Homo sapiens: one gene and its partner. The protein of the gene in region 1 purifies or fractionates together with the protein of each later gene. This does not show direct contact. Each region holds a gene or a part of one and is shown in the gene's direction. Other genes may lie near its edges. The genes, in order: IREB2 and LEMD3.

Region 1 (3,831 bases):
AAGACGATTGTTCTTGTGATTTTTCTGTAGATTTTGAGGAATTTAAATATTCTTGACTGCTATGTGCAATATTTTTTGTGTATTGTGAAATACAGCTATTTTGGAGTATCTTAAAGAATCCCCATTTTAGAATTAGGCTGTCATTTAAAAATAAACAGTTTGCCAAAATGAGAGCAATATCCTTTACCTTGCATGTTTAGCTGCAGTGATTTGTGTTGATACGTTTGTTAAAGGAAGTTGGTCATTTTCTTAATGTATGTCTTTCACATTAATTTTATCCCTTCACTGATGGTGAGTTTGCATTAATTTTGAAAAGAAACAGCTAGATTGATCGTTTACAAGAATAGTCATTTTATTTCCCATTTACTTCTCCAAAATAATCTAGTGATACTGGCTTGGAAGTCTTTTAACCCAAATTTCATAGTTTAATAAATTAAAGGAGCACATAAGATGTTTTGAAAATTGAGTATAAATACTTTCTGTGTATAATCTGTAGAAATGTGCTTACTTGAAGGAAGATGACCTAAATTTCTCAAATTTAAGGAATCAGTAGGAAACTGTCAAAAACAACTGTAAAATGCATTGAAAGGGAATGATTGATAATCTGAAAGTTAAATTTTCCCTGGGAAATAAGTTGTCATGGGAATTTGTACATAACTGTACAGAGTACATGTGTACTTAACATAATTCCAGAATTACCAGTTTTTATAACCATGATAAATGTAATAATAGAATACCTGTGACTATAAATACTTTCAAAACAGAAAGTTGGTTTTTATGTGGGGTCAGTACCCTGGTTTTTATTTTATTTTATTTTATTTTATTTTACTTATTTTTTTGAGACAGGATCTTGCTCTGTCACCCAGGCTGGAGTGCAATGGTGTGATCTCAGCTCACTGCTGCCTCTGCCTCCTGAGTTCAAGCGATTCTCGTGCCTTAACCTCCCAAGTAGCTGGTACTATAGGCGTGCATCACCACACCCAGCTAGTTGTAGAGATGGTGGTTTTACCATGTTGGTCAGGGTGATCTCAAACTCCTGACCTCAAGTGATCCACCCACCTCAGCCTCTCAAAGTGCTGGGATTACAGGAGTGAGCCACTGCGCCCAGCCCCTCCTGCTTTTTTAATAGAGTGCTTATTATGAGAGGTTATTAAGTAATAATTACTTAAGTAATTTCCTAATAAGGAATAAAATTTGAAGAATTGACTTTGAAAGAAAGGAACAAGTTAGGTAGGAAGTATTTGGTTGTTTAACCTTAGAACAAAAAATCCTTATTGCATTTTTGAAAGGATCAGATTGAATTGCCTCCTAGACATATGCTTACAAGAAGACATTGCTTTGGTAGTCACCAAGGTACAGAGCCAGTCTTCTCCACCTCCATTCCACATTTTGATGCCTGCTAGGTTGAGAATGACTGTTGTAATGAGTAACGATTAATGAAGGGAATGGATTCTATCCCTCATAAATGTTACAGAGTAAAGATAGTTGAGAAACACTGTTCTAAGCTCCATGCTGACTATGTCAGGGATGCCTGCAGCTGCAAAGAACTGAAAACTTGCTGTCCAATGACTTTAAGAAATACGAGTTTATTTTTCTAACATAACGAAGTGTGGAGATTGGCAGACTGGGGCTGTGCAGCACCAATCTCCGCAAGGATCTAGGCTCGTCCTTTCTTCCCGTTCTGTTTTTATTCTTTTGGTTGCACCTCCAGGCATTATGTCCAAGTTAAATTTTCCCTGGGAAATAAGCTGTCATGGGAATTTGTACATAACTGTACAGAGTACATGTGTACTTAACATAATTCCAGAATTACCAGTTTTTATAACCATGATAAAAGCCCTCTCCAGGGGCTTTTGCCTCTTTGGCCAAAGTATCAGTGGCCACTCTTAGCTTCAAGAAGGCTGAAAGATGGAATAATCAAGGTCTTCTCTTACTCATGGGGGATATGTTCCAAGACCCTCAGTAGACACCGGAGACTATGGGTACTACCAAACCGTGTATGTACTGTTTGGTATATATTTTTTTCTATACATACATAGCTATGATAAAACTTAATTTATAAATGAGGCACAGTAGAGATTAATAATAACTAATAATAAAATAGAACAGTTATAACAATGTACTGTAATAAAAGTTATGTGAATATGGTCTTTCTCTTTCAAAGTATCTTATTGTGCTGTTCTGCAGGTAACTGAAACCACAGAAAGCCAAACCATAGATAAGATGGGGTACTGTATTTTACCTTTACATCTTTTACAATAGAGAAAGGAAAGGGAGAAGTGGTTGGGAGTGGGTGGTGAGTGAACCAGCCTAATCTATCTGCGTTACCAACCTGATGCCTTCTCTTATTCTGACTTTAGATAGAGTTCAACACAGATTATTTGATTTCTGCTTTTTTACTGCCATTTTATCCTTTTGCTTCCCAAATTTATACTCAGGGTATCTCTATGGAAGTGGGCACATCTTAGACATTGATTACATTTTGATCTTGTATGATTTTGCTTGTGGGGAATCTCCTTTGTTTTTTTATTTTTTGTGGGGTTTTTTTTGTTTTTTGTTTTATTTTGTTTTGTTTTTTTGAGACAGAGGCTCGCTCTGTTACCTAGGCTGGAGTGCAGTGGCATGATCTTGGTTCATTGCCACCTCCATCTCCAGGGTTCAAACGATTCTCGTGCCTCAGCCTCCCAAGTAGCTGGGACTACAGGTGTGTGCCACCACATCCGGCTGATTTTTTATTTTTAGTAGAGATGGAGTTTCGCCATATTAACAAGGCTGGTCTCAAACTCCTGACCTCAAGCAGTCCTCCTGCCTTGGCCTCCCAAAGTGCTGGGATTATAGGCGTGAACCACTGCACGCAGCCAGTTGTGGGGAATCTCTTTAATATTCTGGAGCTGGCTGTCTGGCACTCCCAATGTGCTGACTAGAAACATGTCAAAATCTAGGTAGTCTCAAAATGTAGATTTTGAGTAACTCTTTAAAAAAAAAAATTATAAAGATGGAGTTTTACTGTCAACCTGGCTGGAGTGCTCTGACATGATGATAGCTCACTGGAGCCTTGAACTCCTGAGCTCAGGAGATCCTCCCACCTCACCCTCTCAAGTAGCTGATTTGGGTGACTCTCTTAAGTAGATCTCTGAATTTGAAACTATTGCTATTTTTAAGGAGTGGAGAAATCAGTGGTGTCTCCATGTATGATGGAGGACAGTTAACATCAGAGAATTAGAATGAACAGCATAATGGAAACATGAATGACTATGTTGAATGAAGGGGAAGATGGTGGAGAGACTGGCCTGGCTGGAGTGAAAGGTAGTTTTGAGAGAGTACCTGTTACTGGGCAACAGGGCCTCTGGTGGTGTAAAGCCCCCAGGCACCCTTTATCTCAGGTCATCTTATTCACCCTTTCTTTTGTCCTTCCTGTCTGCTTGCCTTTTTAACCACAGTACTGCTTAGTCCTCCAGTAGAGCCGGGACTTAGTGTCCAAATCCTACCTTGCAGCCTTTGGAAGAAAATCCTGTATTTAATTTTTTAGGAGAGTTTTTATCATTTAGAAGAATCACAAAAAGACAAGAACATTGCAGATGGTACAGAAAGTCTCATTTTTATGTGTATACAAAAATATATGTAAATATGCTACTTTTAATAAAAATAAAGTATATGTTGTTTTGTAACCCTTTTTTTCACTTAATATATCATGAACATCTTTCCATGTCATTGAATACAGGTATCCCTTGCTATCTGAATCTACTTGGTTTCTGAGTCAGGGAGCTTGAGTTCAGGTAGAAAGGGATACCTGTACTTCTCTGTGGCTTCTAATAGCTGCACAATATTGCC
Region 2 (3,468 bases), on another chromosome or scaffold:
TGGGATTACAGGCATGAGCCACCGCGCCTGGCCAGCGCTCTGCACTCTTTTACTGGAAAGTGGGAGGAGGGCTGAGACTTCTGAATTGTAATTTTTAAATCTACCTCCTGTTAGTCAACAAGCATTTACTTAATACCAATTAAAATCGTATGTGGTTTTAAAACTATACCAATTCTAGTAATATATATATGTTGTAAGAGACAGTGAAGAATTTTTACCGAGTAGGAATATGGTTGTTGATTTTTGTTTTCATTAACTTTTAGGGAAATAGGGGATCAGTGGCATTTGGCAATTCAAGAAGCAATTTTAGAAAAATGCAGTGATAATGATGGCATTGTTCACATTGCAGTAGACAAAAATTCACGTGAGGTAAAGTAACTTTTGGTATTGAATTTCATGTTTTGGATTTGTTGCTATTAAACTAAGACTATTTTCTTTCTTTTTTAATATCACAGGGTTGTGTATATGTTAAATGTCTGTCTCCAGAATATGCTGGAAAGGCTTTTAAAGCATTGCATGGCTCTTGGTTTGATGGTAAGAAATTTGAGTACTACAAACATTTTGAAAAGATAGTTATAGTTTAATTTTAAACTATACCAGATTTCAAATAAAAGAATTTAGGTTAGCATTTTTTTGAGTAATAATTTTAGATGACTTTATTTATGTTTTGTGCTCATATGTCTTTTACCACAGTTAATTTTCTGCAAATATTAAACAGTTTTACTGATCTAAAATATTATTTTTATCTTACAACAGGGAAATTGGTTACAGTAAAATATTTACGACTAGATAGATACCACCATCGCTTTCCCCAGGCTCTCACTTCCAACACTCCATTGAAGCCATCAAATAAACATATGAACTCCATGTCTCATCTTCGTCTTCGGACTGGCCTAACCAATTCTCAAGGAAGTTCCTGAAAAGATTTTCTTCCATTTCTAAGACTGTTATTTACAATAGGAAAATTCCTGTTTGGCTTTTTGTCTTCCTTTTTAAATGCTTTTTGTATGTAATATTTTTATTGATGAATACATCTCTGAACGTTCCAGAAGTCTTAAGGTTCCAAAGGGATTTAGCAGTGAGGCAGCAATGCTGAGTAGGTAGGATAATTATTTCATTCAGTTTTTGGAGCTCAGTTAAGCCAATACATTTAAAGTTTTGCATGAGGAACACTGACTTTATTAAGCATTTTCAGATGTGGTGGTTGTATTTTTGCCCCAAGAAGTGTTTGGATAACCACACAAAAGCATGATGAAAAGGCTTCTTGTAGTCCCATAATTTCTTGTGAACTAATGTTGTGAATTTTTGTATACAGTCACCTGCATAGTTCCTACAGGCTAATGTGGTAAAACTGTTGATTTCCCAATTTAACCTTAGGTTTCTGTTGCTTATAAGCGATTCATTTGCTACGGCTGGAATATGGGAAAATTAATTTGGGCTTAGTGGTTACAAATATGTGTAAGTGGATGTATATGTACTTAAACTGGCTTTGTATATATGTATAAATGCTGGTGGTGGTGAAAGTAGTCTTGTTTTATGAGGATGTCTGCATTAAAGCAGTAAAATAAGCTTTCCATTTTATTCATAATCTAATGTGTGTGTATATATGTATGTGTGTATGTGTGTGTATATATAGATGTATATATATACACACACAGAGATATATACATATGGCTGTACTTTTGCATAGATCAAACAGCCAAACACCTGGAAGTATTAGATACAAGTTTAAAATATCTTTTATAGGTTTTATATAAAAATGTCTGAGTATGATTTTGTGTGAAAGTTCTGATACCAGTTGTAATAGAGTCAAATTTATGTGAGCAATAAAGAAGAAATTGGCAGATATTGGAAAAATATTTTGTGAAAAGCTGTATTTATTATAAATACTAGGGCCATGACATAGTACCATTGGGGTTAAGTCATTTTCCCAATCTATTTATAATTTAATGATATGTTAGTGCCTCTGTTATATGTCAAGTTTAAAGCAGGGCACATTGTTGCAGCAAAATGTGTATTTGACAAATTATACTTGCAATTTTGGGTCATGAAAGTTTGCAATATAGTAAATGCACGATTGACTGTTGCTTTGTGCCTCAGTATTTAATTTGTTTCAGTAAACTTACTTTATTACTGTTTATGATTTCAGATAAAAATAGTTGCTGAGTAAATTTTACTTGTAATCTACAATTGGCTTTTTAAAAATAACCTGTTGATATATAATTGTCAGTCCAAATGAATATGTGAAACAGCTGGAATTGTACAAATTTTGGTTGTATTTAAAGCTCAGTTTCCTTTTTGTTTTATTGTATGCGTTGGGTTTGCAGCATGAACTTGCACAGATAATGCACGTTTTCTGGTTAAGTAAACATGATGCACACTATTCTGTAACAGAAAGCCCTATTGTGCCTTACCTGTGTGCTTTTGTGGGCACCTTGTTTATGAAGAATAAAAAATGATTTGTTATCTGAAGAGAATAAATTTTAAATTCTCAGTTTATGTCTCAGATGCTAACGTGTGAAAATATAAATATATATAATATATAAAGTAACCAGTCTTCCTGTATTTTATGTGCATCATAGTGATTTATCTGAGCTTAGTGACCCCCATCTTGTAACCTGTTGCAAGAGTGAATGTAAAAAATAGTTGTGGCATTTTAAAAGGTCGCCTTTGATGCAGATGCATCTTTTTCTTGCTTCTAAAACATATTTCATGTAAACATTGTACATTTATTATTGTAATATATACTATTATGCAGCTTATTTTACCTGAAACTGTTAAGCCGACCAAGATCCCTCCCTGCAAGACAGATGGGAATGTGTATAATAACTAGGTATTTGAGAAGTTCTGAAGTTTGATGTAATCTGTTACTTGTCCTGTTAAAAAAAGGAAAAAATTCTAATTAAAAATTTATTAGTTTTTTTTTATGTGTCTTGGCTTTTTAAAAACATTTTAAGTGCCCTGTGTCTGTATTTATTTTTTTACCAGTGAAAATAGGTGTCTTTAGTTTAAATGTTTGACAGCCTGAATATTTGTGCTTATAAAGATGAATGAAGACCATAAAGTTAATTTTAACTATCCTTCCCCTCAGCATTTTATTTTTCCTTATGAAAATGTCTTCATCCAACTTTCAAGTATTTGAACCAAAATGGGGCAAGAATGTCAATCAGCTACATCACAAAGCATTAGTTCTGCTAGATACTTTTTCACAGCAAGACTTTCTTAAAAAGGAAGCATTTCTTTTTCTTTTAACATTCTGACTTGAATTCTATTGCATTATAAACTATTAACAGTTCATAGGCTAGTTACTTTACATAGCATTGGTTTAGACTTTTTGATATGTTAAGTAAAAAGAAGACTAGTCAGTCATGTGGTACACTTATTGATTACTAACAAATGCCAAGTACTGTTATGTGTTAGGGATACAAAGATGAAAAACACATGACCGAATCCTCAAGATGGTCACAG

Evidence for each region.
Region 2: the proteins of IREB2 (region 1) and LEMD3 fractionate together in Homo sapiens (co-fractionation; one large-scale study listed by BioGRID). This does not show direct contact.

What each region holds. Positions count from the first base shown.
Region 1 is NC_000015.10:78,441,086-78,444,916, forward strand, and holds part of IREB2 (iron-responsive element-binding protein 2), read left to right. Parts: intron 1-3,831. UniProt on the Homo sapiens protein: RNA-binding protein that binds to iron-responsive elements (IRES), which are stem-loop structures found in the 5'-UTR of ferritin, and delta aminolevulinic acid synthase mRNAs, and in the 3'-UTR of transferrin receptor mRNA.
Region 2 is NC_000012.12:65,245,406-65,248,873, forward strand, and holds the end of LEMD3 (inner nuclear membrane protein Man1), read left to right. Parts: intron 1-263; coding exon 264-369; intron 370-455; coding exon 456-534; intron 535-756; coding exon 757-920; 3' UTR 921-2,950; downstream 2,951-3,468.